4 linked regions of the Homo sapiens genome follow. The protein of the gene in region 2 interacts with the protein of the main gene of each other region in a biochemical or structural test. Each region holds a gene or a part of one and is shown on either strand. Other genes may lie near its edges.

What was found. The genes of interacting proteins can lie anywhere in the genome.
Region 1: of the proteins of GNA13 (region 2) and PRKCB, one has a biochemical effect on the other in vitro, tested with the Homo sapiens proteins (one study listed by BioGRID).
Region 3: the proteins of GNA13 (region 2) and ARHGEF1 form a complex in vitro, tested with the Homo sapiens proteins (one study listed by BioGRID).
Region 4: the proteins of GNA13 (region 2) and PPP5C form a complex in vitro, tested with the Homo sapiens proteins (one study listed by BioGRID).

Annotation. Positions count from the first base shown.
Region 1 is NC_000016.10:24,216,473-24,221,953, reverse strand, and holds the end of PRKCB (protein kinase C beta type), read right to left. Parts: 3' UTR 1,994-5,481; coding exon of another isoform or gene 1,841-1,993; 3' UTR 1,343-1,840; downstream 1-1,342. UniProt on the Homo sapiens protein: Calcium-activated, phospholipid- and diacylglycerol (DAG)-dependent serine/threonine-protein kinase involved in various cellular processes such as regulation of the B-cell receptor (BCR) signalosome, oxidative stress-induced apoptosis, androgen receptor-dependent transcription regulation, insulin signaling and endothelial cells proliferation.
Region 2 is NC_000017.11:65,048,889-65,053,740, reverse strand, and holds part of GNA13 (guanine nucleotide-binding protein subunit alpha-13), read left to right. Parts: intron 1-12; coding exon 13-239; intron 240-4,852. UniProt on the Homo sapiens protein: Guanine nucleotide-binding proteins (G proteins) are involved as modulators or transducers in various transmembrane signaling systems.
Region 3 is NC_000019.10:41,896,174-41,901,025, forward strand, and holds part of ARHGEF1 (rho guanine nucleotide exchange factor 1), read left to right. Parts: intron 1-203; coding exon 204-309; intron 310-1,141; coding exon of another isoform or gene 1,142-1,153; intron 1,154-1,772; coding exon of another isoform or gene 1,773-1,940; intron 1,941-2,268; coding exon 2,269-2,414; intron 2,415-4,852. UniProt on the Homo sapiens protein: Seems to play a role in the regulation of RhoA GTPase by guanine nucleotide-binding alpha-12 (GNA12) and alpha-13 (GNA13) subunits. Acts as a GTPase-activating protein (GAP) for GNA12 and GNA13, and as guanine nucleotide exchange factor (GEF) for RhoA GTPase.
Region 4 is NC_000019.10:46,387,771-46,392,317, reverse strand, and holds the end of PPP5C (serine/threonine-protein phosphatase 5), read right to left. Parts: intron 3,911-4,547; coding exon 3,870-3,910; intron 3,766-3,869; coding exon 3,587-3,765; intron 2,268-3,586; coding exon 2,186-2,267; intron 2,035-2,185; coding exon 1,972-2,034; 3' UTR 1,343-1,971; downstream 1-1,342. UniProt on the Homo sapiens protein: Serine/threonine-protein phosphatase that dephosphorylates a myriad of proteins involved in different signaling pathways including the kinases CSNK1E, ASK1/MAP3K5, PRKDC and RAF1, the nuclear receptors NR3C1, PPARG, ESR1 and ESR2, SMAD proteins and TAU/MAPT.

The sequences.
Region 1 (5,481 bases), on a different chromosome or scaffold from region 2:
CTCAGAGTCGGGGCTCAATATTTATTAAATGAAAGATGGGTTTATATCTGGCAGAGGGGGAAAGTTTGAGAAGCTGGCATGGAATGAGGAGGAATAAGAGGCAGCAATGGTAACCTCTTCTATATAATACTGTCTTAAATGGGATGCATGTTCAAACATCTGTAGAATCCCAGGTATTTTTGTTTTCTAAATGTGATGCCTAGAACACTGTTTCTTCCTGAAGTTTAAATGGGCTTCAGCCAACTTTAACTGGCAGACTTTCTAAAATTCTGCAAAGATTAGTGCACTAGGTAAGATCAATGGATTCACTGTATCTTTCCAATGCTCCATTTACTGAGGCTCTTTCAAGAAGGGAAGAGATGAATACACTCTGTAGAGAGTCATAATGTACATAGTGTGAACACATTTGCTCTTTTCTGCTACCCACTAGCCTTAGCAGCTACAAAGGCATGTGCTACAGATTGGATTACTATATCTTTTGAAAAGAAAATAGAAGCATGACTTCATTCAGAGAAGAAGGTATTAGATTGACACCCAGTGACTCAGTACTGTGCCACTCTGCTCTGAGAGAGTGCGGGTCCTTATCATGCCAGCAGGGTTTAGAAGCAGTCTCCCTTATTTCTCCCTCTTCTCTTGGGCCTCCCTGGACAAGCGGTTGAAAAAAAAAATGGCTTATACTCCCCCCCCTCTTTTTTTGGCAGGTGCTTAGCTAAATTAGGAGAATATAAGTCAAAGGTAAGTCGTTTTACAAATAGCAACATCCTCATGGACAACAAACAAAGGATTCTCTCTGCACTGACACCAGCCTCTTTCCTGACTTTTGTCATGGCTGGAATAAAATCTTACATATCTTGTGCTTGATACATAGCTTAATAAACACGAATCACATTGAGTGGGTGGCTGCACACATACCCTGATTAGGGGCACAAGAAAATATTAAGGTCCTCAAACCTGTGACTCACGAATGACAGAGGTTTCAACCTCAAGTGGCTATAGCAGCCAGGGAAGTGGATGGAGGGTATAAGACAATAGGGGGTGGTGGAGACTGTGGCAAAATGAGAACATACACTGCTTTTAAAGGAGAAGCATTTCTCAGTTCTGTAGAATTATTTCCATGTGGAAATACAGGCTCAGAGCTGCTAGTCTTTTGTTTCTTTTTTCAAGGGAATCTAAAAGTCCAGGAATTTATATAAAGTATCTTATTTTGTCATGTTCACAATGGTTTTGATTAAGTAAAATTCCATGTGAGTAAAATTAAGCTTATCTAATGGCTACAAACTGGATCTTCAGTCTGTAACCTCTGTAACATAGTCTATTTAAGAAAAGACATATAAACAAGAGCTTGCATATATTAATTCAGTTTAATCATATCAATTCTTAAACAAAAAACTTCCTCCAAGAGACAATAGTTCACAGTAACTGCAAAGCTTACTCACAATTTTTAAAAATATCGCTCATGCTTAGCATTCAAAGAAGATATTATAGAATAACTGTAAAAACTTTTACCAGGAACATCAGCTTCTGACTTGAAAAATTACAAATACTGAAGCATTTTGGTATCAGACACAGTAGTTTTGACATTGTCTGTTCATTTGATGAGTTTCTGGAAGTTTGGAAAATTGTACCTCTATAATTGGATAATGCGCTTATTCTAAACTAAACATTTTCAAATGTAGAAAACAAACTAGCAAGCTACACATACAAAGAAAAGCCCTCTAAGACAAGCTTTCCACATGTTGAATGCCAGCATGTGCACCGTGAATCCTGGAAGACTAGAATTGATACATACGCTTGGCTTGAAGTCTTACACCCCAGGCTCAACGATGGAGTTTGCATTCACCTACACATTAATGACAAACTCTGGGTTAGTATAAGAGAAGCCAGCAAATTCATTTTGGTCCAAGTTCATGATGAAGAGTTTATCAGTGGGGGTCAGTTCCACAGGCTGTCTGGTGAACTCTTTGTCGAAGTTGGAGGTGTCTCTCTTGTCTCTCTGCCAAATGGAAAGTAAACACATTAACACAGCGTAAGAAGAAAGACACAGGACCAAGATACGCCAGTCATTGGGTGGCTGATACCATCTCATGAGCAGAGTCAGAAAGAGCCCTGTGCTGAAAATTTTTAGCAGCTGCACTCCACGCACTGGCTTTCATTTCACATTGTATGTTGGCTTGGGGATAGAAATGTGGTGGAAATTTTCTAAGAAAAGAAGTAAGTCATTGAATGTCAGTTAAGAATTGCCATAAAGTGGTGTGTGTGTGTGTGTGTGTGTGTGTGTGTGTGTGTGTGTGTGTGTGTTGCTGTATTTTCTTTGGCTTTAGGATGAATTGAATTGGAAGCTACTTATTACCATGCTTAATGTTATAGAAATAATCATTAGGTAGAGCGTCCTGGAGAAAACCATTCAGTAGCAGCCCAGGTGGCTAGAAGACCTCTTTCTCTGAAAAGGTGAACTGCTGCCCATCTACTCTGCCCCCAAGAAGGCAGAATGGCCATGTGGAGAAATCAGATCACTGCTTAATGAAAGGAATTGACCACCGTCAGCTCGAAAATCCACCCACAGTCTAGAATTGGGTGTTTATCAGGCAGAAGTTCTCTCCAAAGACATTTTTAGCATGTGTCAACAAACTATAAGAGAGAAAACCCAAAGCTTAAAGGAGGGTGTGTAAGGGGAGCCTTAAAACAAAACAAAACAAAACAAAACAAAAGAAACTCAAAGCAACTCGATTCTCCTAGTAAGTCTGGCATTTCTTTTTTTGTTCAGTAGGGAGGTGGAGAAGAAATTAACCCCCATTTACTAGCAATTGCTTGGGGCAAGTCTCACCAGGGAACATCAGAATGTGGGCTAATAAAGGAATCTGTATGATGCTCCGACCTCTTCAGGGTCCTTGCAAGCCTCTTGTCTTTCCTCATCATCACCACACCCACCTGGGGCAGGTGGAGCTGGAGTCCTCACCTCCTATATATGACATATGAGAGAACCGAGGCACAAGCAGGCAGGGTGGCTTGCCCAAGATTTCAGTGGGTTCCTGATTTTTACCTGACCACATCGCTGCTATGTAGGCCTCATCACAGTCTCTCGGACTGGAGGGACAACCCCATGGCTGTTTTATTACAAGACAACCAGGGAAGAAGGCCTTGTATTCCCTAGTGCCCTGCACATTCCCGGGCTGCAGCCAAAGTTGCCTCAGATTATAAAGGCCAGGGGGTCGGTAAGGATTCACTGACTCATTAGCGTTTGAGCCATCACCACCCAGGCTTTAGGTTTAGCCCCCTAATGGGCACTAGCTGTTAAGGATCTCTCATTGCTGGGTTCACTCTCCTTTGCAAAAGACCTTTTACAAGACTTGCTTCTTTGTGGCTGCTCCCCTGAGATAGGTAAAATGTCTCTATGGAGTTCCCTCCTTACTCTTGCCAAGTCTATGTGAGGGTGTGGGAGTGAGGTGGGCACACTGAACTCAGGAGCACACGTGGGTATGTGTGGCTAGAGTGGGGCAGGCTAAGATGCTGATGGAGCTGTTTCCTGGGTAGGGTCCATCTCTACCATGTCCCACCTGCCCTTTTTGTCTTGTCCTGCTTGCTGTTAGCCTGTGGGGTGCTATAGGAGTTTCCATCCCCCAGGCGCTCGGCATGTTACTTCCGGTGTTCACAACAAAGCTCGAATGCCTCCTCTTTAATATTGTCTGTGCATCTCTCTCCCAATCCCCACAAGTCACACTTTAGCATCCTTTAATTATCTTGATTGCACTTATTGCTTTCAGAAATTGTCTTGTTTATTTATTATTTCTCTCCAAGAAACAATATTCTTGGAGAATTTCTTGGAGAGAAACAATAAACAGGGTCCTCATCTGCTTCTTCACTAGTGTATTTCCAGTGCTAAGAATAGTGCCTGGCACACAGTAGGTTGTTTGTAATTATTTGTGGAATGAAGGAAGACTTGGGATATGCCTCTATCCTTTTTGCAACTTATAATTGTCCCCGAGCCAGAAACTTTACTCTGAGGCAAAACAATGGAATTGATTCCCATTGATCCTAAAGGTCTCCCAAATGGGCCACTGTCCCTTTTGAACCCCTGTATGAACTGAACTGTGTTAGGGCCCCTAAAGGTCTGAGAACTCCAGGACAGTGTGTGAGCTAAAAGGCAGGTATATTTGGAGCTAGAAGACACAAAGCTGCCTTTTTTTTAGGTCTCCCCTGGTCTCATCAACCCTATTTCGCTTTCCCTGCCTGTGGGCCTCTTATCAAAGATTCCCTTCTGACCAGCCCCACCTTGGAAAGCCCTGCCCCGTTTGTTGTGCTGGTGATGGCTAATGCTTCAGATAACCACATGGTCCAGACAGGACTTGCTTTTATGGACTTTGTCCTGTGGGCAGATCCCCAGAGAAAATACTCCTGGATTTTACCGTAGAAGTTGGGAGAGAATAAGCTTCTCTGTTGAGATCATTTCTTTGAGGTTGATAGCATCTGAAGCCATGTGAAAACAGTAGCACTCATCCAAGGAGGGTTATTAATTCTACTGACCTCCCATTAATCCCCCAAGAAGGTCCTTGTTGCTATGGCCCTGTCCTCTCTTCAAAAAGCTCTGTTTCTCAGTTTCTTCTGCACTGGAAATGTGGATAGAAAAGGAAGTGGTAGAAATTCTGACTTTCCATGGAAAGTTTCTCTAAAACAGACTTTGGCTTGAGTATCTATTTCTGCAAACTATTAAACTTTTGAAAAATAATGGCAAGAATTTGGAAAATGTTGAGTGCAGTATTTATAACACTATATTCCTTCCTTCCTTCCTTCTTTTCCTTCCTTCTTTCCTTCCTTCCTTTCTCTTTCTTTCTTTCCTTCTTTCTTTTTCTTCTTTCTTTCCTTTCTTTCTCTTTCCATTCATCCTACATTGTTTTCTAAAGTTGTCTCAGATCATTTGTCAATGGCCTAGTGTTTCTCCATGGTTTTTATCTTCCTGAGAGCATGTCCAAGCAAAATGGGATCATGATCCAACCACCAGATAAGGGCCTGTTGGTGGGCCTGGCTCAGAGATGTCTGCTGCCTTGCTACAGAGCAGAAAGCACCCTGCACTTTCTGGACAGGACACCCAGGTTTTTATCCCAGCTGACTGACTTTGGGCAAATTCCTTCCTCTTTCCAGATGCCAGTTTCTCAACAATAAAGTGAGGGAGCTTTGCTCCGATTTCCCTCCTTCTCTTACTGCCTAAACTTGTCAGATAGAACTTCAAGTTTGCTTCACCTTAGGTCCTGATTGCCACCACAGTGGGGACAGCAGGGACGGTCCCCAAGCCTGAAGCAAGAAGAGGACAGAGAAGGATGAACTGCAGGAGACTTTGCCTAAGCAGAAATCCAAACCCCATTTTTCCCTAAAGATGAGGCATCTTACTTCAAGGACATTTGTCAAGTTGTTAAAGTTCCCTTGATGGTCTCTCAGAAGCCCTGGAACTTCTGGAAATCACTTGAACTGTGATAAGAATTCTCCTTA
Region 2 (4,852 bases):
TTTTAAACAAAGGTATGAGGGTGCTGGTTGATGCTCGAGAGAAGCTTCATATTCCCTGGGGAGACAACTCAAACCAACAACATGGAGATAAGATGATGTCGTTTGATACCCGGGCCCCCATGGCAGCCCAAGGAATGGTGGAAACAAGGGTTTTCTTACAATATCTTCCTGCTATAAGAGCATTATGGGCAGACAGCGGCATACAGAATGCCTATGACCGGCGTCGAGAATTTCAACTGGTAAGAGATTTGCTCTTTTAAAACGTGTGGTTTTATTTTAATGATGTTTAGTAATACAGGTTGCACATCCCTAATGCGAAAATTCGAAATGTTCCCAAATCTAAAAGTATTTGAGATGGAGGAACAGACTGAAAGGCTAAGGCACAGACCTAATGTGTCCTAGTCTCTAATGACTACGTGTAAAAATAGTGTATAAAATTACCTTTAGGCTACATATCTTAAGGTATATATGAAACATAAATGAATTTCTAGTTTAGACTTGAGTCCCATTCCCAGCATATCTCATATGTATGCAGATATTTCAAAAATCTGAAAAAATTCAAAATCCAAAACACTTCTGGTCCCAGGCATTCGGATAAGGGACACTCAACCTGTATCTGATTTTAGCACACTTTTTTCACTGACTTCCATAATTTAATGTATCTATCCAAAATTATAGCCTCAGAAATTTGTTTTTTTGTTTTTGGGGGGTTTGTTTTGAGACGGAGTCTCTGTTGCCCAGGCTGGAGTGCAGTGGTGTGATCTTGGCCCACTGCAACCTCTGCCCCCAGGGTTCAAGCAACTCTCCTGCCTCAGCCTCCTGTGTAGCTGGGTCTATAGGCGCGTGCCACCACACCTAGCTAATTTTTGTCTTTTTAGTAGAGGCAGTTTCGCCATGTTGGCCAGGCTGATCTTGAACTCCTGACCTCAGGTAATGTGCCCACTTTGACCTCCCAAATTGCTGGCATTGTGCCAGGCATTTTTCCCCTTTTTTCTTTAACGAGACTACCCATAAAATGCTTTGTAGCTGTTACACAGCATTGAAGACAGGTTTGGAATAAAAGTATCCAATCCAGGTTAAAGATACAGAATACAGTTGAAACAAATTTTTAATCAAGTGTTTTGTAATTTAACTGTGAATGCTGTGATTGGGTTTTATTTGCCAAAGATCAGAAAGATTCCAGCAGTGATAGAAATCTAGACTGTGTGCAATTTGGAGGTAGTTCAGATCTGAAGTGTTTTACTCTAATATGATTAAAATGAAGTGACAGTTAAAAGTAAAACTGCTGGCTGGGCACGGTGGCTCATGCCTGTAATCCCAGCACTTTGGGAGTCTGAGGCGGGTGGATCACCTGATGTCAGAAGTTTGAAACCAGCCTGGCCAACACGGTGAAACACCGTCTCTTCTAAAAATACAAAAATTAGCCAGGTGTGGTGGCAGGCACCTGTAATCCCAGCTACTCAGGAGGCTGAGGCAGGAGACTCGCTTGAACTCTGGAAGCGGAGGCTGCGGTAAGCCGAGTTCGTGCCACTGCACTCCAGCCTGGGCAACAAGAGCAGAACTCCATCTCCAAAAAAAAAATAAATAAGCTGCTTAGGAAGTTGTTTGATGATGTCACCAACATTAATCCACATTAATGGGTGTGGCTGCAAAGCGATGTACAACCAGCAGTCCTTGCTGTTATTATTTATACTTAGAAGCAGTCTTGCCTTTTAAAAGTTCCAGGAAAGTGTTCACGATAGCTTTTTATAAAACTGACACCTTAATTTTGACTATATCTGAATTATGGCTTTTATATCTGTCATTCAACTAGCATTTGATTATTTACCGTCTTGTATAGTTCTCTTCTATCATGTTTGTATCTTGTCTTTTCAAGTAATGTGTTTATTTCTGAAAGGCAGGGACTGTCTCACATTATTGTTAAAATTACGTAGCTGCCAGTATTGCATGTTGAAAATGATGAATTTAACTTGACAAATGACCTCCATCCAATTCCCAGATTTCTGGTTAGTTTTGTCCCTTGATCAATGTTTATTACTTTATTTTTGGTAGATTTGCTTGCATGAGTTCTTCCATATACCCCTTTCCATCGCCCATCACTCTACCTCCTGTTTTTTGTTTTTTTGCATTTTTTTGAGAGTTTTGTTCTTGTTGCCCAGGCTGGAGTGCAGTGGCGCGATCTTGGCTCACCTCCGCCTCCTGGGTTCAGGCGATTCTCCTGCCTCAGCCTCCCAAGTAGCTGAGATTACAGGCATGCGCCACCACACCTGGCTAATTTTGTATTTTTAGTAGAGACAGTGTTTCTCCATGTTGGTCAAGCTGGTCTCTAACTCCTGACCTCAGGTGATCTGCCTGCCTTGCCCTCCCAAAGTGCTGGGATTACAGGCATGAGCCACTGTGCCTGGCCATCTACCTCCTGTTTTTAAGTGCTGCTTATTCTCCTTTCTTCTTAGTTCATTTTCTCAACAAACCACACACTTTCAACTCAATTTTGTCAGGCTCTATTCATCCTTCCAGGTCAGAGAAGAAACATTCATCTGTAATAAGCATACAGTGCATATGGATTAAATGAATAAATAAAGAACTGCATACCTGAAAGTTCTCTGTGGGGAAGTTCCGTATTTGCCCTAAGTCCATTTAATTAAAGTTGTGTTTCATGGACAGTTTTTTAATTTGGAAGCTGACGTCTAACTGTCTCACATCAGGACTGTCATGTCCTCATTGTTGAGAAAGCATCCCTAAGTATATCTTTGTGATTAAGAACGAATAGGTAAAACCACTCAGGATGAGGACCTGCTTGTTGTTGACTTGAGCCAGTTGATCCTTAAGGAGCAAAGAAGTCCTCAAAGATGAGGAGAGATAAGTTCCAGAAATACTTTTTTCCATGATGAAAAGTAGAGACAAGAAAAGAGGAACAGAGCAAGACCTAATTTTAAACTTCTGGAGGACAGAGATTCTTTTTTCCTGAGTCTACGCTCAGCATTGTTTTTTGTTTTTTTGTTTTTGTTTTTTAAGAGAAGGTCTCACTGTTGCCCAGGCTGGAGTGCCCTGTTGTGATCATAGCTCACTGTAGACTCAACTCCTGGGCTCAAGTGATTCTCCAGCTTCAGTCTCTCAAGTAGCTAGGACTACAGGTGTGTGCCGTCACACCCAGCTAATTTAAAAAAAAATTTTTGTAGAGACGGAGTCTTGCTATGTTGCCAGTGCTGGTCTTGGACTCCTGACCTCAAGCAGTCCTCCTGCCTTGGCTTCCCAAAATGTTGGGATTATAGGCATGAACCACTGTGCGTGGCTTCAGCATTGTTAATAGCACCTGACACATAGAGATGCTCCATTATTATGTTGACTTAATGACTCTTAAACTCTTGGATGTGCTGTGGTGCTTGGCATAGTGTCAGGCACTGAGAAGGCACTTGGCTTACTTAAAATTTTCCTCAAAGTCATCATCAATTCCATCTACTCATCTACATGCAGCAGCTCCCCAAGTTCTGATTTTTCTACCTCTGTAACGTCTCTTGCATTCATTCCCTCCTTTCCTCTATTTTGTGTTCTGCTACCTCTTGCTTGGACTCCAAGGCAGTCTTGTTCAAACACAGCATTGGTTTGCTCAGAAAGCTTTGGTGGCTCACCATTGTCTTCAGAACAGAGCTCAGCTTTTTTGTGGGAGTAAAGACTCTAGCTAGCTTACCTGTGATTCCAGCAATATATTTCATTAGGCCACTGGACATACTCTGTAATCTCTTGATTCCCACATACCCTAATTTTTTGCTTCTATAGCTCTCATCATGCGTAGTCCCTCTGCCAGAATTATTCTTTACCCTATCTGTTACTAGGTCTTACCCTTCACTTAATGTAGTGATAATCACACTAAATGTGGCCCATGGACCCCATGGACTGGAATGCTTGTTAAAACAAACAAGCAGATGCTCAGACTTTATACCTGAGGATCTGATTCTGGATTCTGGGATGGGACCCAGTGATCTGTGTTTTCAGCAAATAGCCATAGGTGGTTTGGATGAATTTGCTCCATGCCCCCTCCCTTTCCCCAGGAACAGTGCCTTAGGGGCTGTGTCTCTTTATTTGAAGCATCTCCAGTCTTCTTGGCTAGAATGGAGATCTCCGTGTCCTTTGCTTTCCCTAGCATGCTTACTCCTGTCACTCCTCACAGTACCCATTATGTGTGTTAGAGTCACAGCTTTCATGTGTGGCTGTCAGTCATGTAGAAGTCCTTTGGTATGCCTAGTTTGTCTTTTTCTCTCCTACTAGCATAGTGCCTGACACTTTTATTTCCTCGTTTTTCAGACATTCTTAATTACAAAGATGTTCTAAAAAAATAAAATACCTGTAATCCCAGCTCTTTGGGAGGCTGAGGCAGGCAGATCACTTGAGGTCAGGAGTTGGAAACCAGCCTGGCTGACATGGTGAAACCCCATCTCTACCAAAAACCAAAACCAAAACCAAAAATTAGCCAGGCATGGTGACATGTACCTGTAGTCCTGGCTACTCAGGAGACTGAGGCACGAGAATCGCTTGAACTCAGGAGGTGGAGGTTGCAGTGAGTGGAGATCATGCCACTGCACTCCAGCTTGAACGTCAGAGTGAGACCCTGTCTCAAAAAAATAAAAATTAAAAAATATGTAATATAATTTAATTCTACATTAAGTTCCTTCTGGGAAATATGGATTATTTCTATAATAGTTTCCTAATTTTCTAGGAAGTGGACAGTTCTTGTGTAATTATAATTTTTATTTGGGGGGGTTGAAATGTGTTTTGTTATGTTTAGCAGCATATTTTTGAATTTTGGATAGGAAAGGTAAACATCAGAAGAAATAGAGGTTAGCAGATAAAATAA
Region 3 (4,852 bases), on a different chromosome or scaffold from region 2:
CTGTTGCATCTTCATGCTCCTGCCCCTAGTGGCCATGTTCTGAGAGGTCTTAACATCTGTCCGTCCCGTGCTGAAGTACAGAGCAGCCATGTGGTGTCTGCCAGGCACTGGGTAGCTTTAGCCCCCGCAATTCCAGGCCCCCAGAGTGTGGGTCTCGTGGCCGCAGAGGCCTTCCAGCCAGCCCTGCTCCCTCCACCCCACAGGTGCTGACGCCCCCCTGGAGCTGGGGGACTCATCCCCGCAGGGCCCAATGAGCCTGGAGTCCTTGGCGCCCCCAGAGAGTACCGACGAGGGGGCCGAAACCGAGAGGTGCCCAGGCTGGGGTGCAGGGGCGGGAGGTGTGGCTTACTGGGCGCTGGTGGGTGGGTGCAGGGTCACCGCTGCCATCTGTGCCTGCCTGTCCCAGGCTCTTGCTCCCCATGCTCCTCTGCTGCTCTCTGGGTCTGGCCATTCCTCTCCCTTCTTCTTTCCTTTTCTCATCTCCCTCCTGCTTCCTCATTGCCCCCCTTTCCTTTTATCCTTCCTTTTTCCTCTGCTCCTTCCTCTCCTTCCTTTTTTCACTAATCCTTCTCCTCCTCCCTTCCTCTCCACCACTCCTTCCATCTCCTTTATTTCCCCCTCCTCTCTCACCTCCCCTCTCCTCTCTCACCTCCCCCATCCTCTCTCACCTCCCCCCTCCTCTCTCACCTACCCCCTCCTCTCACCTCCCCGCTCCTCTCTCACCTCCCCTCTCTTCTCTCACCTCCCTCTTCCTCTCTCACCTCCCCCCTCCTCTCTCACCTTCCCCCTCCTCTCTTTCCTCCCCACTCCTCTCTCACCTGGGTTTTCTTTCCCCACCTTCCATCCCCCTCCGATCTCCCTGCCACTTTTCATTTTTTCAGCCCTTCCTCCCCTTCTCTTTCAAGCCCCCCTGCCCCCTGCCCCCCACCCCCCGCCTCGCTCCTGCCTCCTGGTGCCCGTCCCTCAACCCCCCACCCCTCTGCTCTGTGCCCTGGGGGCCCTGTCCCCCTTACAGCTGGGGGGCAGGCTCTGCCTCCTGCCCGTCCTTGTGCCGCTGCTTTGGGGACCCTTTGGTGGGTGCGGGGAGGTGGGTCAGGTTCCATCTGGGCCCACCTCTGACCCTGTGCCCCTCTCTCCCCAGAAGGTGGAAGAGGTGGGTGCCTGGGCCCTGGGTGGGGGAAGGGCTAGCCCCTCCCCCATTTCTCCCAGCCCCTCCCCTCTCCCCATGGCCACTCCCTCCCCTTCACTCCCTGTGAGGGGTGGGTGGGGACATCACCCTCCCAGTTGAAGAGCTAAGTATGGAAATCCTCCCCACCCCATAACACCCCCTCTGTTGCCATCCCCCTGCCTCAGGGAAGGGAGGGGGTCAGTCCTATGCTCCATCCTGGGTTCCCCATCCCTTCCCCCATCAAATTTCAGTATCCCCCCTCCCCCAAGACCCCCCACTACCCCAGTGCCCCTAAAATCCCACCACTCCTCTGACTCTCTCCTCTCTTCTGTTGCATGTTTGATCCCTGTCCTGGTCACCCTTGCCCCGGTCCTGGTCTCTCCCTGTCTCTGTCCCTGTCCTGGTCTCTCCCCGTCTCTGTCCCTGTCCTCGTCTCTCCCCAATTTCTGTCCCTGCCCTGGCCTCTCCCCACCTCTGTCCCTGCCCTGGTCTCTCCCCGTCTCTGTCCCTGTCCTGGTTTCTCTTCGTCTCTGTTCTTGTCTTGGTCTCTCCTTGTCTCTGTCCCCGGCATCTGCCTGACTCTGTCCTTGGCCTCGGGGTCCAGGCTATCAGGGCGTCTGGGGCGCTCAGAGAGCCTGCGGGTGAGTGACCGCCGCCGGCCTTCCCGGGGCAGCCTCGGGGCTAAGGGCCGGGGTGGGGGCCGCTCCCGGAGCGACGTGGACATGGACCCCAGTTCCGCCACGGCAGTGCTTGGCCCTGCCCGACGAGCCACGTATGTCAACCCTCTCCCTTCCCCCATCCACTAAGGCAGCCTGGAGAATCAGGGAGGGATTGTTGTCAGAGTCACAGAGGAATGGGCGTTGGAGACCGAGGTCATTGAGGCCAACTGTGGTCACAGACCTTGGAGGAGGAGGGGGTAGAATGCTTCTAGAGATCTGGGAACTCTAGTGTGGTCCGATCTAGAGACCTGGTCTGCTGCACGGGCCACCCTGCGGGCATCGAATGCCAAGGCCACTGACCGGGGTTGAACGCTCTAAGAGGCTGAAGGCTGCTTCTTGGGATGGCCCAAGCTGGGGCCCTAACAAGGCCTCTGTCCACAGCCCCGAGCCTGGAGATGAGGGGGAGCCGGGGCGGTCGGGACTGGAGCTTGAACCAGAAGAGCCTCCCGGCTGGCGGGAACTCGTCCCCCCAGACACCCTGCACAGCCTGCCCAAGAGCCAGGTGAAGCGGCAGGAGGTCATCAGCGGTGAGTACTGCCCCCATCACCCCACTGTGGCCAAGGACACAGTCCAGCTCTGGCAAAGGCAAAGACAGGCGCAGAGAGATGTTCATCTTGGTGTCATTTACCATCGGGAGAACTTGAAGGCAGCTTCAAATTCCCTCTTGTTCCAAGTTCAGATTGTTTCAACACAGAGCATTTTGATGGAATGTGAATGCCACTGTGGAAGGGACATTTCCAAACATTTCTAGTAGTGCAATACAGTGCTGATGTTGAGAACACTGCATTTCTGGTGCAAGCTTTTATTTCCTTGCTTGTGAAATGTGGGCATTAATAGTTCCTACCTCAGATATTGTCATGAAGATGAGATGATTTGTGTGAAATGTTTAGCATAGTGCTGGGCACAGAGGAAGAGCATTTTATTTTATTTATTTTTTTAAATTTTTATTTGAGGCAGAGTCTCAGTTGGTCTCTCAGGCTGGAGTGCAGTGGCACAATCACGGCTCACTGCAGCCTTACCCTCCCAGGCTCAACTGATCCTCCCACCTCAGCCTCCCGAGTAGCTGAACAGGCATGTACCACCATGCCTGGCTAATTTTTGTATTCTTTGTAGAGATGGGGTTTCGCCATGTTGGCCAGGCTGGTCTCGAACCCTTGGGCTCAAGTGATCCTCCTACCTCAGCCTCCCAAAGTCTTGGGATTACAAGTGTGAGCCACCAGGCCCAGTCAAGGAAGAGCATTTTAATGAGATTGTTGTTACTAGTTTGATCTTAATTGCTTAGGGGAGAAAAGATCCCCACAGGGGAAAGTTTGGGAGAATGATCAGTATATTAGCAGTGCTTGCTTCTGCGTGGAGAGATGATGAGTGTATCATTTTTGTCTTTTTCCTTTTTTCCTTTGCTAATTGTGTGGTGGCTAGGGAGGCTGGTGGCAAAAAGAGAAAGCTTTTTTTTTTTTTTTTTTTTTAAGACAGAGTTTTGCTCTTGTTGCCCAGGCTGGAGTGCAATGGCACAATCTCGGCTCACCACAACCTACGCCTCCCAGGTTCAAGTGATTCTCCTGCCTCAGCCTCCTGAGTAGCTGGGATTACAGGCATGTGCCACCACGCCCGGCTAATTTTGTATTTTTAGTAGAGACGGGGTTTCTCCATGTTGGTCAGGCTGGTCTCGAACGCCCGCCTCAGCCTCCCAAAGTGCTGGGATTACAGGCGTGAGCCACTGTGCCTAGCCCAAGAGAAAGGTTTGGGACTTGACTGAAAGCTTATTTACAGATTACTTCATAGTGAAAAAGATACTTATTCAAAAATTTTAGGGGAGTAGTTGAGTACTTTTTGGGTCACAGATCCTTCTAAGGACATGATAAAAAAAAAAAAAAACATGAGCCATGTGCTACCCATTAGGACTTTCTGGAAGATGGAAATGTGCTTTATTTGTACTGCTCACCATGGGGACCATCGGCCACCTATGGCTGGTGAGCACTTGAAATGCACTAGGCCAGGCACAGTGGCTCATGCCTGTGATCCCAGCACTTTGGGAAGCCGAGGTGGGCAGATCACTTGAGGTCAGGAGTTCGAGACTAGCCTGGCCAACATGGTGAAACCCCATCTCTACTAAACATACAAAAATTAGCCAAGCATAGTGGCGCATGCCTGTAATCCCAGATACTCGAGAGAGTAAGCCAGGAGAATTGCTTGAACCCAGGAAGCAGGAGATGGAGGTTGCAATGAACCCAGATCACTCCACCACACTTCAATCTAGGTGACAGAGCAAGACTGTGTCTCAAAAAAAAAGCACTAAATACAACTGAGCACTGACTTAAAATTTCATTGCAATTAACGAAAATGTAAAGAGTTGTACACGGCTGGTGACTATCACGTTGGACAGGATAGCAATTTCTTTCCCCAGAAAGAATATGCATAATGTACAAAATCGTGCTTTTAGTCTCAGGGGACTTCTAGGGCCCCTGAAACTCACACATATGCCCTCCGGGGATGTGGGGGTCCCTGGATCTGAGGCTGTCAACCACTGTATAATGTGGCTTGATGGTTAGACACTAAACACAGCTGCAAGCTTGCTGGCAGGTGGGATGACTAGCTTGTCCCCATTTGCTCAGGATATTCACAGTTTTATCACTGAAAGCCCAGGCAGGCAAATGAGGACCATTGGTCACTCTGGCCAGCTGCCACAGCGAAAAGGGAAAGGCAGTGGGTTGAGGAATCCTCACTGGTTTTTTTTTTTTTTTTTTTTTTTTGAGACGATCTCGCTCTGTCGCCTAGGCTAGAGTGCAGTGGCGTGATCTCCGCTCACTGCAACCTCCACCTCCCAGGTTCAAGCGATTGTCCTGCCTCAGCCTCCCAAGTAGCTGGAACTACAGGTGCCCACCACCACTCCTGGCTAATTTTTGTATTTTTAGTAGAGATGGGGTTTCACCATGTTGGCCAGGATGGTCTTGATCTCTTGACCTCG
Region 4 (4,547 bases), on a different chromosome or scaffold from region 2:
GTGCGCCCTGCACGGCCAAGCCCAGCCAATCACAGAACTGAGGAAGACAGCAAGGCATTCGTTGTTGAAGCTGAGGGGGTGGGGGGGGTTAGGGTGTTTGTTATGCAGCTGTGCAGCATGGCTGCAGCCCTGACGGAAGAAAAGGCTGGCTCCTGGGAGGTCACCGGAGAGCCCTCGGTGTGTCCTACCTCATAGGAGCGTCTCTTTATCTGGGGCCCTGGGCCACAGTGGACAGTCTATGCTAAGGATGTGATTTAGGGTGGGGGCCGTGGGTCTCTCTGGAGGCTACGGTCAGCCACGCGGGGTGAGCAGTCCCCATGACCAACCCCTGAAGAAAACCTTGGATGCAGAGGCCCGGGTGAGCTTCCCTAGGTGGCCACACTCCAGCACGCTGTCGCATCCATGCGGGGAAAATAAGCGCTGTCCACACAGCTCCACGGGAGAGGGCAGTGGGACGCTTGCGCCTGCCTCTTCCCTCCTCTCATTCTCATCCCCATATTCTTGCTATAATAGGCCCTCACTGTGAGGATAATGACCATACCGGGTCCTGGGAGACCTCCTGAACTGCAGCGGCAGGGAACCCCGACACCCAGTGAGTCTGAGAGCCTCACAGCTGCCCGCCTGGCTGACTCCCATCAGGTCTGAAGCACCCTCCCGACAGTCATGGTGGCTGTTTTTGTCTTTCCCAGGAGAAATGAATGGCACTGGCAACCTGGGCCTCGTGCCTGTTTTCCTGAAGCCATGTGTACTTGGCTTCTGGACCGTGGCGCACCTGACCCCAGAAGGCGGTGCACTTACTGTAAGGCTGATGGGCCTTAGAGAACACCTCCCCAGCGCCTACGCGCAATCAGGACCGCGGACGCCTCATGTCTGCCTGGGAGGTCTCCAAAGGGCCAAACACTCCCGGACTCGGCCCTGCAGGAGTCATTTGCTGTAGACCATCCCCCAGTGCCACATACCACTGGAGAAAGCTGAGTCCAGAGGAGCTCAAACTTGAAAACACAATCTCTCTGGAGGGTCAAGGCCTGGCAGGGCAGCCTGAATGGAATCCAACGTTACCTGTGACTAAGAGCCAACTGGGAGTGAGACAAGGGTCCTCTGGTCTCCCTGGATGACGGGAGATGCGCGCCTCATCGTGTGATGTCAAGAACCACTGCTGGGCCTACCCTGAGCAGGGAGCAGGGAGCGGCACTGTCATGCTTGTTGCTGGAGCCAGCAAAGGATGAGGCTATGCCTCAGCTTCCGCTCCGCTCCACTCAGTGCTGGCCTCATCGCCCCACCCAGGGGGCAGAACTCTCCCCAGGAGCCCACGGTGCTGGGCAGAGGCAGAGGCCACTTGGGCGGTCAGCCCAGAGCTGGGTGGGCCCGGCCAGCGGGACTTTGCGGCCTCCCCACCCTCCGGATCTCCTGAGCAGGCGTAACCCAACCCGGGCAGCTCCTTCGGCTCCACCATCCAGAGACAAGCTGACTTCCGATAATGACTTTATTTTAACATATTTAATTACAGACATAAAATAGCTGGGGAGGGGGGTGAGCCCCAGCCTAGCCCCACCATGGGGCTATAGGAGGGGAGGCGCAGGCGGGGCCCCCCTGCTGACCCTCTCTCTGGGGGTCTTCCTATGGCGGGGCCCTATTGCTTGAGTGGGGGAGGAGCCATGCAAATGAGGGGGGCAGGGCAGCCACTCGGCCCCACCCCACCCCGAGGACGGCCTCCCCACAGAATGCCCAGGCTGTGCCCCCAGCCCCAGCTGCTCCACCTCCTTCCTCTCTGTCCAGGGAGCAGACCCTCTGGCCAGCCCCTGACTCTGCCCCTACCCCCTCTGCAAACCTAAAGGGGAATAAATACAAACTTTACAAAGTAAAAGGGGGTCCAACATTGCCCTGGGGCGGGGCCTGCTCTGCCCCTAGCCCAGGGCCTGGGTCCGGTGGGATTGGAGGGGCCCTGGGATGCAGGCCGCCCCGCCCGTCACCTCACATCATTCCTAGCTGCAGCAGCGTGTTGGCATAGGCCATGGGCTTGACGTTGGGATGAGGCTGTGGGACCAGGGCAGGTGGGATGGACAGAAGTCAGAACAGAGCCCCTGAGCACCCACCGGCAGAACCTACCCCTGCCCCTTACCAGGGTCTCAGCCTCCTTGTCCCCAGGCCGGGATGGAAGGGGCAGGGGCCCTGAGGGGTGACTCACCACTGCTGTGAACTGGTGGAACTGAGGCCGTAGGTCAGAGCCCTGGAGGTGGATGTAGGAGGCTTTGTTCCCCATCTGGTCGCTGCAGGGACAGGAGCAGAGTGGACAGTGTGGTCAGGGCTGGGTGGGGCTGGTGGGTTAAGAGAAGGAATGGCTGGGCAAGAAGGGACAGAGGGAGAGGGAGGGACAGAGCCACAACAGACACAGATGGACAGAGAGACAGAGATGGGAAAGACGAATCCAGGGGAAAGAATGGGAGGGGCAGGAGGATGGGGATGGGGAAAAGAGGGTGGGAGTGCAGGAAGCAGGAGCAGGAAGGGGCAGGGCATAGCTCATGGAGGTGGATGCTCGCCAGACCCCACTAGGAATCTGACCACGCTTCTAGCTTTGCCCACCCAGAGATGCAGGGAACAGAGGAACATGTCACACGGCACCACGGGGATGCAGTCAGCCTAGTCCAGGACACAGGTGACTCGTACAGCAGGCAGCAACCTATTCTTCAACAAATAAATGATGCGGGTGGGGAGAGACAGGGAACTCACAGGCAAAGAGACTGAAAATGTGGTCCTTGTTTAGGTCCTGTCTGGAAGAAGTCAGCTGGAAAAGACACTTAGGAGAGACCAGGAGAAAGAGAACTTGGCAGGATTCGGGTGGGGGCAAGGGATCAACACTGTGTGTGTGTGTGTGTGTGTGTGTGTGTGTGTGTGTGTGTGTGTGTGTGTGTGTGTGTGTGTGTGTGTGTGTGTGTGTGTGTGTGTGTGTGTGTGTGTTTTGAGATGGAGTCTTACTCTTGCCCGTGTGCGTGTGTTTTGAGATGGAGTCTTACTCTTCCCCAGGCTGGAGTGCAGTGGTGCAATCTCAGCTCACTGCAACCTCTACCTCCCGGGTTCGAACAATTCTCCTGACTCAGCCTCCTGAGTAGCTGGGATTACGGGTGTGTGCCACCACGCCCTGCTAATTTTTGTATTTTTAGTAGAGATGGGGTTTCACCATGTTGGCCAGGCTGGTCTCAAACTCCTGACCTCAGGTGATCCGCCCACCTCGGCCTCCCAAAGTGCTGGGATTATAGGCGTGAGCCACCATGCCCAGCCAGCACTCAAAAGTGTAAACACGATATTGTGGTTAAGAAAAAGATCCCTTTCCTTCTGAAAAGTGCTGGGCAATCAGTGGGAGAAAGGTGAAGTGCCAGGGGCTTGCTGTAACACAGGGCAGCTGGTCAGCACTCACAGGCTGGCCCCACTGGTGCTGCATGGGTGGGTGACACATACGGGGGTGTTCGTCATGTTCTTTTATCTGCTCTTGCCTGTCTTTGAAATGTTCCATCATAAAAAGGCAAAACAAAAACCAAGACAAAAACCCGTGGCTTGGTAGAGGCCCTGGGCTGGAAAGGCAAAGACATACCAGTAGTTGGGGGCAGAGAAGACGGTGACACAGCGGCCTCCGTGAGCCACCTCGTAGCCCTCGGCCTTGACTTCGTGGCTGCGGATGATATAGTCCAGGTTGTTCTCTTCCAAGAAGGCCTTGGTGACGTCAGGCCCAAACTGACAGCTCACGCCCCGCTTGCTGATCGAGCGCCCGTTCTGAGGGTGGGCAGAAGGGAGAGACAGGGGTTCAGGGTGACTGTCTGCCTCCACCTGCTGCCACAGCCCACACCCGCCGGCCCTGCACCCCACCCTAGACTCACCTGTGGCTGTGGATCTGACCAGAGCAGGTCACACATGGGCCCTGGTGGGGAGCGAGGGAAACATTAGGGACTCGTCCACCTCCCCGGGGGTGGTCACTCACAGGCCACCTCCTGGCCCGGCCAGGTGCTGACCCCACAGCCCAGCCTGGGTGGGTGTTGGGCAGGGGACATCCAGCATGGACATGGACATTCAGGACAGGTGACTGTGATTCTGAGCCACCCCCACCCTCTCTGCTGATCTGCCCTCCAGACCCCATTCAATCCCCTGTGGCCCCGAAGCCAGATAGAGCTTTCAATGTCACTATTCAGATCAGGCCCCTCTCCCACTCAAAGCCTTTGGTGGCTCCGCACTGCCCTAGGAACAAAGTTCCTCACTGGGGCCTGTAAAGCGCCATAGGATTTGGGCCCAGTGAACCCCATGTCCAATGTCAGCCCTCAAAGCACAGCCCTGCCCACTCGCCAACTTCTCCCTGCCTTAGGACCCCTCCTCAAGCCTGGAATATGCTCGCCAGGCTCTGTGCACGGCAGATGCCTCTGCTTCCCGCAGTGTCAGCTCAAACCTCGCCTCCCTGGAGAGGCCTTCCTGAGCACCCAGCACCAGCCCACCCAATCCATGTCCTCTGCAGCACTCACAGTGTGCACGTGCGTGTGCACCTGTGGGTGAACTCTCTGAAGTGT